Homo sapiens: one gene and its partners. The protein of the gene in region 1 purifies or fractionates together with the protein of each later gene. This does not show direct contact. Each region holds a gene or a part of one and is shown on either strand. Other genes may lie near its edges.

Region 1 (3,573 bases):
CAAGACATGTTAAATTTAAAAAGCACAGTGCAGGATGTATGTGTGGGATGTGTAGTATGTGTAGGATGCTACAACTAGTGGTGGGGAGAGTAAAAATGGCAAAAGTGGAATATGTGCACATCTATATATATATTTGCTTGGTATGTAAACCACAGGAGATTTTATGATATACTAATACCACTGATTGCATCCAGGGAAAACAGTGTGGCTGAAGTACAAGGGTAGGAGAGTGACTTTGACTATATATCCCATTACATATTTTGAATTCTAATCCATGGACAAATATGACCTATTCAAGAATTAAAATTGCCAGGCACCATGGCTCACACCTGTAATCCCAACATGTTGGAAGGCCAAGGCAGGAGGATCACTTGAGCCCAGGAGCTGGAGGGCAGCCTGGGCAACATAGCAAAACTTCATCTCTGCAAAAAATTAAAAAATTAACAAAGCATGGTGGCGCACACCTGTAGTCCTAGTTACTCATGAGGCCAAGGTGGGAAGATCGCTGGAGTCCACGTAGACAAGCCTGCTGTGAGCCGTGATGGTGCCACTGCACTCCAGCCTGAGCAACAGAGCGAGACCTTATCTCAAAAAATAAATAAAATTGTTTAAAAAACAATGGTTTTGGATCATGTGTAAAAACAGGAAAAAAAGGTTTATGCAATAATGCTAATTTTTTTTTTTTTTTTGAGATGGAGTTTTGCTCTTGTTGCCCAGGCTGGAGTGCAATGGTGCTATGTCGACTCACTGCAACCTCCACCTCCCAGGTACAAGTGATTCTCCTGCCTCAGCCTCCCGAGTAGCTGGGATTACAGGCATGCGCCACCACACCCGGCTAATTTTGTATTTTTAGTAGAGATGGAGTTTCTCTGTGTTGGTCAGGCTGGTCTTGAACTCCCGACCTCAGGTGATCCGCCCGCCTCGGCCTCCCAAAGTGCTGGGATTACAGGTGTGAGCCACCACGCCCGGCCAATGATGTTAATTTTTAAAAACAGGAAACAAAGCTATATAAATAAAATGTCAACCATGTTTTAATGCATTAAATTAATGGAAATCTACCAAAACAGTAACAAAATTTACATTCAGGTAGCTGAGTTGACTTTACATGCTTTTTATTTTCTTCTTTACCTTTACTATAGTTTTCAGATTTCAGATAAGAAGCATGAGTTAGGCCAGGTGCGGTGGCTCACCCCTGTAATCCCAGCAGTTTGGGAGGCCAAGGTGGGCAGATCACCTGAGGTCAGGAGCTTGAGACCAGCATGACCAACATGGAGAAACCCCATCTCTACTAAAAATACAAAATTAGCCGGGCATGGTGGCACATGCCTGTAATCCCAGCTACTAGGGAGGCTGAGGCAGGAGAATCGCTTGAACCCGGGAGGCGGAGGTTGGGTGAGCCGAGATCGCACCACTGCACTCCAGCCTGGGCAACAAGAGCGAAACTCCATCTCCAATTAAAAAAAAAAAAAAGGTGTGGATTAATTTTAAAACATAAAAATAATTTTAAAATTCCATGTATCTTATACACATACAATTGTAACTATCAACTATCAGAAAAAGCAAAATAATAATAAGCAATTTTATCTATCACTCTCACCTAAACTAAGAAATAAAAAATATTTTTAAAATCAGGCCCACAGATTCTCAATGCCAACTTTCTACAAAAACATTACTGGTTTTTAGCGCCAGATATACAGCTCTCAATCTGTTTCCTGTAGGGCGGGGAATACGGGAGAAATCCGAGGCCTCACTCACATCCGTCTGGAGATGTGCAGGTGCCTCTGAGTTGTCATTGATCCTCCGAACACTGTCGTAGTGCTCTCCATACCGATATGCGATGTGTAACTCCCTCACGCTGCTTTTCTCTGTACCACGAATCTGTAGACAAAAGAAGGGGCCATGCCAGTGAGGATCTGAACACTATCAACTTCTGGAGAGAAACACCCACCTGGACTGCTGAGGAAGCCCAGTCAGCAGGTCTATGAGACACTAATTGGGAACACACCTGGGATATGTCACAAGCAATTTCCAAACTACCTCCTTCCTATGCGTGTATGCTTCCGTATGCTTATTTAATATGTAACTCCATGGAAATAAATCATGTAAGAAATTCAAAAACCAGGGGCAGACTTGCGATGAAGTTAAATAAGCTTAAGCTTCAGAGGCTGTATTACCTCTGAGCCCCTCTAATGCACAAGCCCCTTCCAAGGGGAAGGCCCAGGGGCAGATCCAGATTTGTTGAGCTTGAAGCCCTAACTATTTGAAGGCTCTCTTTGAGGAAAAAAAAAATGCAAAATTATAAATATAAAACTGGTAGAACTTCTCCCAAGACCTAGAAAGGGAGTCCTACAAATGAGTGGCCTGATGTTTCATTAGCTTCAAGGTAAATCCACCCCTTTCGTTAAAACGAAAATAGCATTTTCTATTAACCACCTAAATGAGAAACATCAACAACAAACCCAAATCTCCTACCTACGTCAGCTTCAAAACAAAATTACATAAAGTAGTACGGCCTGTAGCGCTCAACCCTGCAGGCGCCACCCACAAGGTATTCTATGTGAACTACACCCCTGACACACAGCACAAGAATGGGGCTCCCTAGAGTTGTGCAGTACAGAAGCCCTAAGGTCTGGGCGTACCCCAAATAAAACTCGCCACGTCCAAAGAAACTCTCATTCTAACTTTGTCCCTTAGAAAGCCCAGTAATGGTTCCTTTGTTTAAACTCCAAAACATCAGCACATTCTTTTTACTGAAAATCACACATAGTAAGATACTGCCCTTACTTTAAACAGTATCCATGGTCTAAAGACAAAGCAAAAACCATGGAACAAACAGGAAGCACACAAGTCTAGATGTCAGTAGCGTGGAAGCTTTTCCAGTAGAATACGCAGATCTCAAGTGCAGAGAGTCTGGTTTAGACACATACAAAATAGAGAGCACCATTTGTCTCCCAGGAAGAGCAATGGGAAAGTAAACAGTTTATTAGAATCTTTGACATAATCCCTAAAGCACTTACATACCTAATAATAATAATATATATATATATTATGAATAGAAAACCTAACTGGAAGAATATTCACCAAATTGTTAACTGTGACTTTCACGGGCAGATTACAGAGGACTTTCACATTCTATGTTACATACATCTAGATTGTTCACAGGAGCACATATTCCAATTATAACCAGAAAAAAAATGTAGGTTTCAATATCTCCATGGTGTGAGTATAAGCCTACTCTTTATTAATGAAAGAGCCCATAACCATGAAAGTAGCAACCAATGCAGTTTCAGTTCTTAAATTTTATAAGATGCTTCACTGGGGTAGGAAGACATAGGGGGATCCAATGGAAATATTAGTAAATTTATTTTAAAAAGATGTACTTTCAATGCTCAGGAATTTATGAAAGAGAACACTACAGAAATAAATTCAAAAAAAAATTTACCTATGCAGAAATGTCTTCCACAACTACCTAGGTAACTAAGAAACTTTGGGAAAAAAGTCATCAATGGAGGAAAAGGCAAGCTGATTACTGAGTTGGTAGTGAGTATTCCCCTTCAAGGTGAGGGTCATTAT
Region 2 (3,573 bases), on another chromosome or scaffold:
TGCTTTCTTTGAAAGTAGTTCAGATAATCCTGGGTGCCATATGGATTGTCAGACCCCTTGCAAAACTAGGGAGTCCACCAGGGGCTGGCACAGTGGTATTGGGAATCGGAAACCACTGCTTTGGATGGAGGAAGTCTTAGAGTACCAGGATCAGGGACAGACACATGGTCTTGGTGGGTGTTAAAATTTGCAATGCAGTATTGGAATAAATGCAATACGCTTATACCTACTACCCTTTTCCATCTGCTTCTGGCAAGGCAGTGAGACTTCTTTTCATACTTTTTGGTATAAGCTATGTATACTACCTTCATGGCGCAGTGCAGGCAGTTTTTCCCCTTTATAAAGTACCTTCTTTTAGTTTTAAAAAATTTAAGCAATTTGGTCTTTCCTGCCTTCTCATTTCTTCAGAAATATGCCTGTTACAGGAGGTGAGGCAAATCTATTTGATTCTTCTGAAATAGTTTTGGAATTTTTGATATATGGAATTTTGGTAGTTTATGCTTCGTTTTTATCTTTTAATGGTGTATTTAATTTTTTTTCTGTTCTCGAATATACAGAAAAATGTATGCTCATCACTTAACCAGTTTTAATGTGTTGATAAATTGCTCCCCATTAAAGCCAGTTGAGATCACATTGTTTGGCATTCTTTTTTTTTTTTTCAATCACACAACTCATCTTAGTTTACTTTTTGTGTCATCTTTGTAGGACGTGCACGGTGGCTCACACCTATGATCCCAGCATTTTGTGAGGCTGAAGTTGGAGAATTTATTAAGGCCAGGAGTTAAAGGCTGCAGTGAGCTATGACTGCCACTGCATTCCAGCCTGGGTGACAGAACAGGACCCTGATTCTTTTTTTATTGAGAGGCAGTCTTGCTCTGTCGCTCAGGCTTGGAGTGCAGTGGCCCGATCTCAGCTCACTGCAACCTCTGCCTCCCGGATTCAAGCAGTTCTCCTCCCTCAGCCTCCCGGGTAGCTGGGATTACAGGCATGTGCCACCATGTCTGGCTAATGTTTGTAATTTTAGTAGAGACGGGTTTTCTCCGTGTTGGCCAGGCTGGTCTTGAACTCCTAACTTCAGGTGATCCGCCCGCCTTGGCCTCCCAAAGTGCTGGGATTACAGGTGTGAGCCACTGCGCCTGGCCTAGGACCCTGATTCTTTAAAAACAACAACAACAACAACAACAAAAATGGTCTTTGTAAAAATTTTTAAATGTCAAAAAAAATTGGCTTACCATCATGGCTGATAAATGAGGAATGCTGAAAGTTCAAGCTGTTGGTTTTATATATATATATATATATATATATATATATATATATATATATATAAAATTATATATAAATGTATATATATAAATAAATAAATACATATATATAAAATGATCTAAGTTTATCATTTATCTTTGGGAGTTAGTCACTGTTCAAGTCAGTTTCTAGGTTTTAAAAAATTTTTTTATAGAGACAGGGTCTCACTCTGTTGCCCCGGTCAGAGTGCAGTGGTGCGATCATAGCTCACTGTAACTTGAAACTCCTTGGCTCAAGCAATCCTCCTGTGTCAGCCTCCCAAGTAGCTGGGACTACAGGTGGGTGCCACCATGCCTGGCTCTCTCTACAAGACAGGATCTTGCTATGTTGCCCAGATTGGTATTGTTGGAAATCTTACTCACATTTACAGTTTACTTGGCCTCAAGTGATCCTTCTGCCTTGTCCTCCCAAAGTGCTGGGATTACAGGCATGAGCCACTGCACCTGGTCAAGTTCTAGTTATTTTGTTGTTTCCTACATTGCCTTTTCTCAAATTAATCTGCTTCTTGGTATATTATTATAGCTTCAAGGTTTTTTTCTTTCTAAAATATTCACTAATTCACATTTCAATACTAATGATTAGGATAAAGATGGTGATAGAGCAGTTCACCATGCAGCTTTTGGAGATGAAGGCGCTGTTATAGAAGTACTACATCGAGGTAGTGCTGATTTGAATGCTCGAAACAAGCGCCGACAGACACCACTTCATATTGCTGTCAATAAAGGTCATCTTCAAGTTGTGAAGACTTTATTGGACTTTGGCTGTCATCCCAGTCTCCAGGTAAAACCTTTAAAGAAACACATCCTGCAGGTATTGCTAGGATCCTATTAAAGGGAAACATTAAGTTCTATGGTAAGCATTCCTTTGTTACCGTTCTCATATGTCATAGTAAATGATACCAAAGGCGTAAGATGTTACAAAATTGGCAGCTATTTCTTTTTTAAAAAGTTGTTTTTTTTTAGGGAAAATGCCAATAGATTGGGTTTTGATTGGGCAGGGAGAATGAGGACTTCTTTGTAAAAATATCAGCTTATGAATGGATTTAACTTTATTGATCATGACAGTGAGCTCAACAGCTTAAAGAAGTGTAATAGGCTATATTTCATAATAGTTACTTCATAACTATTTAAATTATTTTAATTGTAGCTTTTATTGTAGCTTAGGGACTTTGAATAGTCGTTAGTGTAATCTTCGGAGATTTCTGTTTTGGAAAATGTATAGGATTTTAGAGTTGATTTACAGTAGGATCTAATTTTTGAAGCAATGATTGCCTAAGAAATGATTATCCCCAGCTACAGTTTTATAACCAGATAAATTAAACCACAAATATATAGAAAATGTAGTCTGTGTCCATTTTCTGCTTAGTTTGGTTACTAAGCAACTTGTCTTTTGTGCACCTGTTTGATTAAAGTTTCTATACTTAGTAATTTTGTAGCTCCTGAATCTAATTTGCCAACTTTTAGGTTCCTTAACCGAATAGGCTTGAAACAACATATTATTTTTAAATAAAAGTGTTCCCTGAAATACTATTTGAATATGTAAAACATAATTTGTTTCCATTGGAAACTCAATAATGATTTTTTAAAAAGTAGGGCAGTGGTTAGAATCATAAGCTGCTTGTAGTTTAGATAATTTACAGCATCCAGGAATTGGTTGCTGGATTGGATAGATCTCAGAGAAGAAATAAAGAACAGTAGTAGTGGGAATGAGGGCTTGAGAAGAACTGAAAGAATAGATTTTGTTCAGCTAGATAATTATTAGAAATTAAGGTTTTTGAAGTGCAGCTGTTTTGGAACTGTTGGGATCTAGAGTATGTCCTTGTAAGTGGGAGGCAGGATTGGAGGATGAGGGAAGAATTGGGGGGGTGTTAATCTGTAAGGAGAGGTGATTTATACCTGCTGACGTTTTTTGTCTGAAATGGGAGACAAGTTCATCTGTTGAGAGTGGTGGGTAGAGAAAGAGTAATTGAGAAGAGTGATAAGGACTTGGGGACCTGCAGAAGGGTGTTCCAATCATGTTAGAAGCCCGTTTCAGGTTGAACACTACAGATTTTTAGTGCCGCCAGATACAGGAGTAGAAGGTAGATGGTAGATGGTTGGATTGAACTTGGGTTAGGAATTCTTTTTTTTTTTTTTTTTTTTTTTTTGAGGCAGGGTCTTGCTCTGTTGCCCAGGCTGGAATTCAGTGGCGTGATCATGGCTCATTGCAGTCTCAACCTTCAGGGCCCACCTCAGCCTCCCGAGTAGCTGGGACTACAGGTGTGAGCTGCCA
Region 3 (3,573 bases), on another chromosome or scaffold:
GTCAAAAGAGCACCCTGGTGAGTTCCAATTGCCTTGCACCAGGGAAACATGAATGTAGGATTGATTCCACAAATACTCCAGGTCACAATTACGCAGTTCCCTTTCTTCCGTCATGATAGCCAGTTGGCTTGACATGGAGGCTTGGAGCCTTGGGCATGGAAAAAACTTCCATAGAGCAAAGCACCAAACTTTAATGGAGGGCTGAGGGCTCTACTGGGGAATGCTGCTTGTAGAGAACTGTACTCTAAATTTGACTGTACCTGCTACTGAAATTCAAATTCATAGTCAAAAAGTAGAACAGTAGTTACCAGGGCCTGGGGGAAGGGGAAAATGGGGAGTTATTGTTTAATGAGTACAGAATTTCCCTACAGGATGATGAAAAGTTTGTAGAGATGGATAATGGTGATAGCTGCACAACAATGCAAATGTACTGAATGCCACTGAACTGAACACTGAAAATGATAAAAATGGTAAATTTTCTACGTCTGTTTTACCACAATATATTTTAAAAGTTAAAAATTGCACTCACATTAATTCCTGAAAGGTCAATGGCAATGGCAGGTCCATCTTCCCCACCTTTAGGGGCAATCTGATTAAGCAGATGAAAATAGGCTCTCGAGTCCTTCAAGGAAAGATATGAAATAGCATTTTTAAAACGAATAAAATCATCATTGAATTTAGGGAAAACAAGTGCTCAAACTGAAGAAATTGCCTCTATCTCAAAGAATGGAATAACTTTAAAAATAAAGAATTACTTGTAGGTTCCTGAATGTACCATGCTGTTTCACACTTCAGAGCTTCAAAGCAATCCTGTTTCACACCTCAGAGTTTATAGCAATGCTGTTTCCTGCACCTGGATACCCTCCCTTACTTTTCCATCTGTTTACACACCCAAGCATCAACATCAGTTAAGATTCAGGTCAAGTATTATCTCCCGTATGCCTTCCCTGGATTCTCTAGGATGAACTAAGAACCCCTCTTCTGTAGTGCACAGCACCCCTTGCCTATCTTAATAAGTAAACAGTGATCACACTATTAAATCATCTAATGTCATTGTCTCCAAAGATGGATATATAGTTCTTCCCCATGCATACATTAACTCTTCCCACCAAAAGGCAGAAGCTATTTCCTGTCCTCTTTAATTTGGACAGGCCTTATGATTCACGTTAACTAAGAGAATGCTGTGAAAGTGATGTTCTGGGGCTTCCACGCCCAAATCTTAAGAGCTTCTGCTTCCTCTCTCTTAAAGTTAACCTCTACATAAGAAGTCCAACTATCTGAGACTATCATGCTGTGAGGAAGCCTGAGCTCACCATGTAGAGAGGCCTTGTGGAGGAGCACTGAGGCACCAGACATGTGACTGAGGCCTTTGTGTACTTTCCAGATGAGCCCAACTGACAGCTGAATGTAATCGAGTTAGTAATCCCAGCCAAAACCATGTGAAGCAGAAGAACCACCCAGCCAAGATGCATCAACCCACAAAATGATGAGAAATAATCATTATTTAAGCAAATTTTGCATAATTTGCTATATAGCAATAGATAACTGAAATATCCCTCTGGTACATGTTTGTCTCTGAGTAGAATTGGCAAGCTTCTCAAGAGCTGAGTCTTTGCATCGCCTGGGCATAATGCCCCTCAGAAAGAGCTGAATAAATGTTTGATTAGCTGAATTTTCAGAGATTTCAGAATAAGAGAAATCTCCCAAATAAACTTTCAAATATAACAGTGTATAGTAGATGAAAGCAGAGAAATAAAATGTCACTTCAAATTGAGAGACTGTCCTGTAGGCCATTATGGAAAAAGATAACCTGACTGAAGGTTATATAGCTAAAGACGGAACATGAATTAGAGCCAGCACTGATTACTCTTGGGGGGCAGGATGGGGGAGGACATAAAGAAACAGAGAGAAGAAAAAAGTCACAGCGACCCGGCTTGGCAATGCCCATCCAGGCAGTAACCAAGGGAAAGTTGTCATTAGACAAAAATGCCTGTTATAGTTTCCTTGACAAGATTCTCCCAGTAGAGAGGGAAGTGTTTTAAGCTACCCTGGTTAAGGCACATACCTTAAGATCCCCTTTATTTACTGATTCTCTGTACCCTCAGATAATCTGATTTCCTGTTAGCTGGTTATTGGCAAAGTGGGAGTAAGAGTGTTAAACCAGTAAACAGATATAATTATTAGTCCAAATGAACAGACTGACATCCTCATTATAATCTAGCAGATCTCAGGCATAAAAAATGAGAAAGTGTGTTTTAATCTGTTGAGGCTAGCACCTCTTTCCTCTCACAGTCAGTTGTAGTTCTTATTAAAAGCCAATATATCTGGTTTTTAGAAAATATATATTTTGTGAATATAATTGGGGGATCTACTTCACACAGTAATGCAAATTTTCATTTTCTATCCCAAGTGTTCTTGTGAATTTAATTCAAATTTAAGTCTGAACCCCTTTTATTTTTACACTGCACATCCTTATTTCATGTCACAAATTTGAACATTTAAATATAAACCTTAATGTCTTGGCTGAAGTTGCTGATGGTATGCCATCCTGCATTGGTCAGATGGTAGTTCACCCATCGCAGCAGTAATTCCTCGGGAGAAAGCTTCATCAGCTCCTCTAGTTCCTCACCTTCATTTAACAATGCAATCAGAGCTGAGGGCAAAACAGCGAAATGTAAATTCTTCCCATAGCAAGTACATGTCAATGAACAGCAAATATTTCTAATGATCTTACCTTCATTCCTGGAAATCTCAATATCAGCAAAAAGGCCAACTTTGATGATCTGCCAGAGAAGTCCCAAGACCAAGTGAGGTTTTCCTTCTTTGAGATCTGATGCACCAATGTTGACCACTGTACAACCAATGGCTGAGGCAGAATTCAGAGCTAGGTTTAAATTTTCCTGAATTGCCAAAAAAAAAAGTACACATGAGGAAGTCCTTTCTAAGGTCTTATCTATAAAAATTATCTATAAGAAACAATGGACTGCCAAATTTCAGATTTATAAACATAATATTTATACAACGAAAATACCACTACTCAAAAAAAAAAACACATGGTTTTAACTGTTACTTTATATGCCAATGACTTTCAAATCCCTATTTCCACCCAGACCTCCTCTGAGTCTCCACTCTAAGCTGTGTATCTATATATGTACTTGGTTATGTCTACCTGGATGTTCTGCCAATACCTCAAACTCAACATGATATTTTTGTAAAGTGCTCATTTGGAAGCACTTCTTTAAAAAATGATGTACAATTAGGTTTTAAGATAATTTTAAAGTAACTCTTAAGATGGATTTTACAGATGAGGAAACTGCAGCACTGACAGTTTCCACAGTGGAAAGGCCGGGGTCTGATCCCAGCGGTCTCCCGAGCCCATCCTCTTTTTTATTTATTTTTTTTGAGACGGAGTCTCACTCTGTCACCCAAGCTGGAGTGCAATGGCACTATCTTGGCTCACTGCAAGCTCCGCCTCCTGGGCTCACGCCATTCTCCTGCCTCAGCCTCCTGAGTAGCTGAGACTACAGGCACCCGCCACCACGCCCGGCCAGTTTTTCGTGTTTTTAGTAGAGA
Region 4 (3,573 bases), on another chromosome or scaffold:
CTATGAACAGGTCCACACCAACTGCCACTGTCCAATCTTAGTGGTACCCTTTCTTGTGCTACTTCCTGGGTCCACACCCAGCCTAGGTGGGACCAGCCTACTCCCTGCCCAGCTGAGGACAGGACGAGGCATGGCTAGGGAGCTGTCCGTCACACCTCATGGGGTGGGCAGCATCTAAAGCCAGGTGGCACCTCTCACCTGGTTACTCACCACCCCACTCACAGAGCCTGACACAGCCTCACTGCCTCCCCACACTCACAGAGAAGCAGGTTCTGGCTCCTGTCACTCTGGGCTAGGGAAGGACACAGTGGGGGTGGGACACTGAACAGGTCAGCCTCTATTCTCTTTCTCTGAGAACCAGAGCATGCCACGCTGCACACTGCTGGTGGAGGCAGCCTAGGGGACAAAAACCTTTGGTTCTCAGCCCACTCCAGGACCAGGATGGGGCCTTTCCTCTAGGCTCCTAACACCCACACACTGGCAGGTCCTGGTCCCCATGGTACCCTAGTGCCCAACACAGAGCCTGGTACAGAGCAGGTGCTCAGATATTTGTTAAATGAAAACAAAAACATATGAGATCAGTGCCTTTCTCCTACTATCTGAATCTGTTTCTCCCTCCATAATATGGAGTGTGGACCAGGAGGCCTCAGGTCCTTCCGGACCAGTCTGTGATAGCCACGAGCACCTGAAGCCTGGGGGTCCATGGTTCCCTGAACCTGTTACAATCTCTGTCAGGCAGAGAATGCACTGACCAGCTCCAAGAGTAAATGGGGACCCAAGTGTCCCTGAGCCATCCCAGGTGCCAAGTGTGACCTAGCTCTAAATGGGGACACAGGTGTCTTCTGGACTGACCCAGGACTGGGATGGGCAGGGTCAGAAGGGCCACCTTGACTTGTTCATCATCCTCTGTGCCACCCAAATGACCACAGCCAGGCCAAGGGTCTAGGTTTGCTCAGTCTGACCTCTCAGCATATGTTAGCACAAGTGGTTTTCCCACCCATCTTTGTTGTTGTTAAGCATCTGTTGAGGGCTAAGTGCTGGGGTAAATGCCTCACCTATATCACTTAACTCTTCTCAGTCTACTATGAAGCAGGTATTTTATCATTACTCTGCAGACAAGGAAATAGAGGCTCAGAAACATTATGGGATATGCCTAAGATCACTCAGCAGGACAGTGATGGGACAGAATCAGAACTCGGGACTGCTAGCCTCAAGGCTGTGCTCTCAGGCCACAGTCCCCCAGACAAGCACCCTAGTCAGACTATGACCAACCAACCCTGGAGACCCAGGGCCCACCCCATGGGGTCCACCACATCTCTGGGAAAGCTGCAGGAGGCAGTGGCCAGGCCAGAATATCCCATGCCAGGCTTCTTCCATCTCACTCTTCCCTAGACCAGCCTCCAGCACTGACCCCAGGGTACCCTGCTGCCTTAGCCCTTTCCCATCCAGGAATTAGCACCTCCAACCCAAGAGGCAACCTGTTGATTCCAGAACAGGCAGACACGCCAATGAGAAGACAGCCAGCTGCAAGGACTCTTCTTGCAGAAGGCTCTGACTGGGCCAGGTGTGGAAGGGGGGGCAGGGCCTTACACAACGGAGCCCTTGAAGGGGTGAGGGTCACACATCTGCTCTAGGAGCTCCCCATAGCCCACTGTCTGTCCCATCCCACTCAGGCTCCAGTGCTCCCAACTTCAGTTAGTGCCATCTCCTGGCCATGTGACTGCAAAACCTCAACCAACCCATGTCGCCTCTCACCTGGACCCAGCCCAATCTCTTCTACGGCCTCCTGCCTCATCTCCTTCCCTCCTCCACCTGCCCTTCAGCTAACTTCCTAAAACAAAGGTGGCAAATTGTGCCACATCCTTCTTCTCAACCTGCTGTACTTCCCCACCACCTGGCTGGGCAAACCCTTCCACCTTTCTCCACCCAAGACATGTCTACTAACCACAATTCTCTGGTCATCCCATGTCTTCAGGCTCTTGCTGTCACAGTTTTCTTAGCCAAGTACCCCTTCCCAACAAAGCAAAATTCTACTTACATGAGAAGGCCCAGCTGAAATCTACCCCTTCTCTGAGCCTCCCCAGCAGACTCATGGCAGCCTCCCTGAACCTACAGCTCAAAGTTCTGTGGACATCAAGCACAGTGTCTTGTTGGAGAATCACTTATGTGGGGCTGACATGTCAGCCACACAGAGCTTCCTGAGGGCAGAGCCAGGTCTGATTCATCTCCAGAGTGTAGGTGTAGAGTAGAACCTGGCACAGAGAGGGAACCAGTACATCCTGTTTCAACTAGTGCCCCAGTAAGCCGGTCAGCACACATTGGGTAGACTGCAGGACTTGTGCACTTGAGCTCTCCAGGCAAGGAAATCAGAGCTGGGGATTCCAAATGCTTGGTTTGGCATGGCTTAGTAGTAGAGGCTGAAGAACCCTTGACAGAGCTGCCAGCCCATCCAGCTGTGGGCAGCACCACCCCATAGCATAGCAGTAGGTTACATTAGCAAGCTCTGACTCACCATAGGTTGTAAGAACAGCCAGACGCTCACAGGGTGCTAGTGATGCTGGATTAGTTTTTGACTTCAGCATTCTGAACATTCTAAGTAACTCATCTGGCTCCACTAGCCCCCTTGGCCATCTCCCAGCACCAGCTTGAGGTCTAAGGAAATGCCATATCACCAGGTTGAGGGGCATCAGAATGGCTGAAGAGGTAAGATTCCAAGCCCCATCCCCAGGGACTGCCCTCTCAGCCCTCAAGGGCCTACAACTATGGCAGAAGAGCTGAGGGATGGAAAGCACAGAAACAGCAAGATGTAACCCCAAAGAGTGGGCAGAATCTGAATGGCCTGGCCTTAGAGCACTGGCCCCAAATGGAGATGGAAGGAGGGATGACAAGAAGAGGAGGCAGGGGACCAAAGTCCTGGCAGAAGCCAGGGATTCATGGTGGTATAGTCCACTGCATTTGGAAATCCACAAGTAGCCATGGGCAAGGGGAACCAGACCTGGGCAAATAGAAAGCCCACAAATGGATGCCGGGAGCAGAAGTCCAGGCTAAATCTGGAAGGTGCTTCAAGCTCATAGAGGAGGGGTCTGCAGGGCCAGCTTGAAGATTCTCCCACCCTTTCCTCAGCAACCAAAACTACCCTCCCCAAAGAAGCCCTGGCCCACCAGGCCCATCCATGGGGCAGAACCCCATGGAGACTCCTTACCATGTGGGGGTTGTCATAGTAGACAGCGATGGAGCGGAGCTTGGGAGAGATGCTGCAGCTCTCAGTGAAAAGCCGCCCAGTCTCACCATAGAGCCCCATGTGGAACTTGTAGGCCACAGTGACGTTGCGGATGGGGGGTGACCCAGCACTCACTTCCACCCCAGCCAGTAGCCCTGAGTACCCGGCAAAGGCCAGCAGCGTCAGCAGCAGTAAGAGAGTCAGGCCCCCAATCAGGCCCAGTAGTAGCAGGTCCGACATGGCTCTGGATCCCCAACACTGCACCTCAAGGCAGCTGCAAAGGAGAAAGAAGGGAGAGGAGGCTGGTAGCCTACTCTGACAATGTGCCCACTTGCCCGCCAACCAGTTCTGGC

What was found. The genes of interacting proteins can lie anywhere in the genome.
Region 2: the proteins of OTUD3 (region 1) and MIB1 purify together in Homo sapiens (affinity purification with mass spectrometry; one large-scale study listed by BioGRID and IntAct). This does not show direct contact.
Region 3: the proteins of OTUD3 (region 1) and PLS1 purify together in Homo sapiens (affinity purification with mass spectrometry; one large-scale study listed by BioGRID and IntAct). This does not show direct contact.
Region 4: the proteins of OTUD3 (region 1) and TEX264 purify together in Homo sapiens (affinity purification with western blotting, with the first as the bait; one study listed by BioGRID). This does not show direct contact.

Annotation. Positions count from the first base shown.
Region 1 is NC_000001.11:19,895,845-19,899,417, reverse strand, and holds part of OTUD3 (OTU domain-containing protein 3), read right to left. Parts: intron 1,879-3,573; coding exon 1,756-1,878; intron 1-1,755.
Region 2 is NC_000018.10:21,813,732-21,817,304, forward strand, and holds part of MIB1 (E3 ubiquitin-protein ligase MIB1), read left to right. Parts: exon of another isoform or gene 1-164; coding exon of another isoform or gene 165-173; intron 174-1,884; coding exon 1,885-2,082; intron 2,083-3,573. UniProt on the Homo sapiens protein: E3 ubiquitin-protein ligase that mediates ubiquitination of Delta receptors, which act as ligands of Notch proteins.
Region 3 is NC_000003.12:142,683,333-142,686,905, reverse strand, and holds part of PLS1 (plastin-1), read right to left. Parts: intron 2,901-3,573; coding exon 2,735-2,900; intron 2,654-2,734; coding exon 2,511-2,653; intron 623-2,510; coding exon 530-622; intron 1-529. UniProt on the Homo sapiens protein: Actin-bundling protein. In the inner ear, it is required for stereocilia formation. Mediates liquid packing of actin filaments that is necessary for stereocilia to grow to their proper dimensions.
Region 4 is NC_000003.12:51,674,192-51,677,764, reverse strand, and holds part of TEX264 (testis-expressed protein 264), read right to left. Parts: intron 3,495-3,573; coding exon of another isoform or gene 3,461-3,494; coding exon 3,203-3,460; intron 1-3,202. UniProt on the Homo sapiens protein: Major reticulophagy (also called ER-phagy) receptor that acts independently of other candidate reticulophagy receptors to remodel subdomains of the endoplasmic reticulum into autophagosomes upon nutrient stress, which then fuse with lysosomes for endoplasmic reticulum turnover.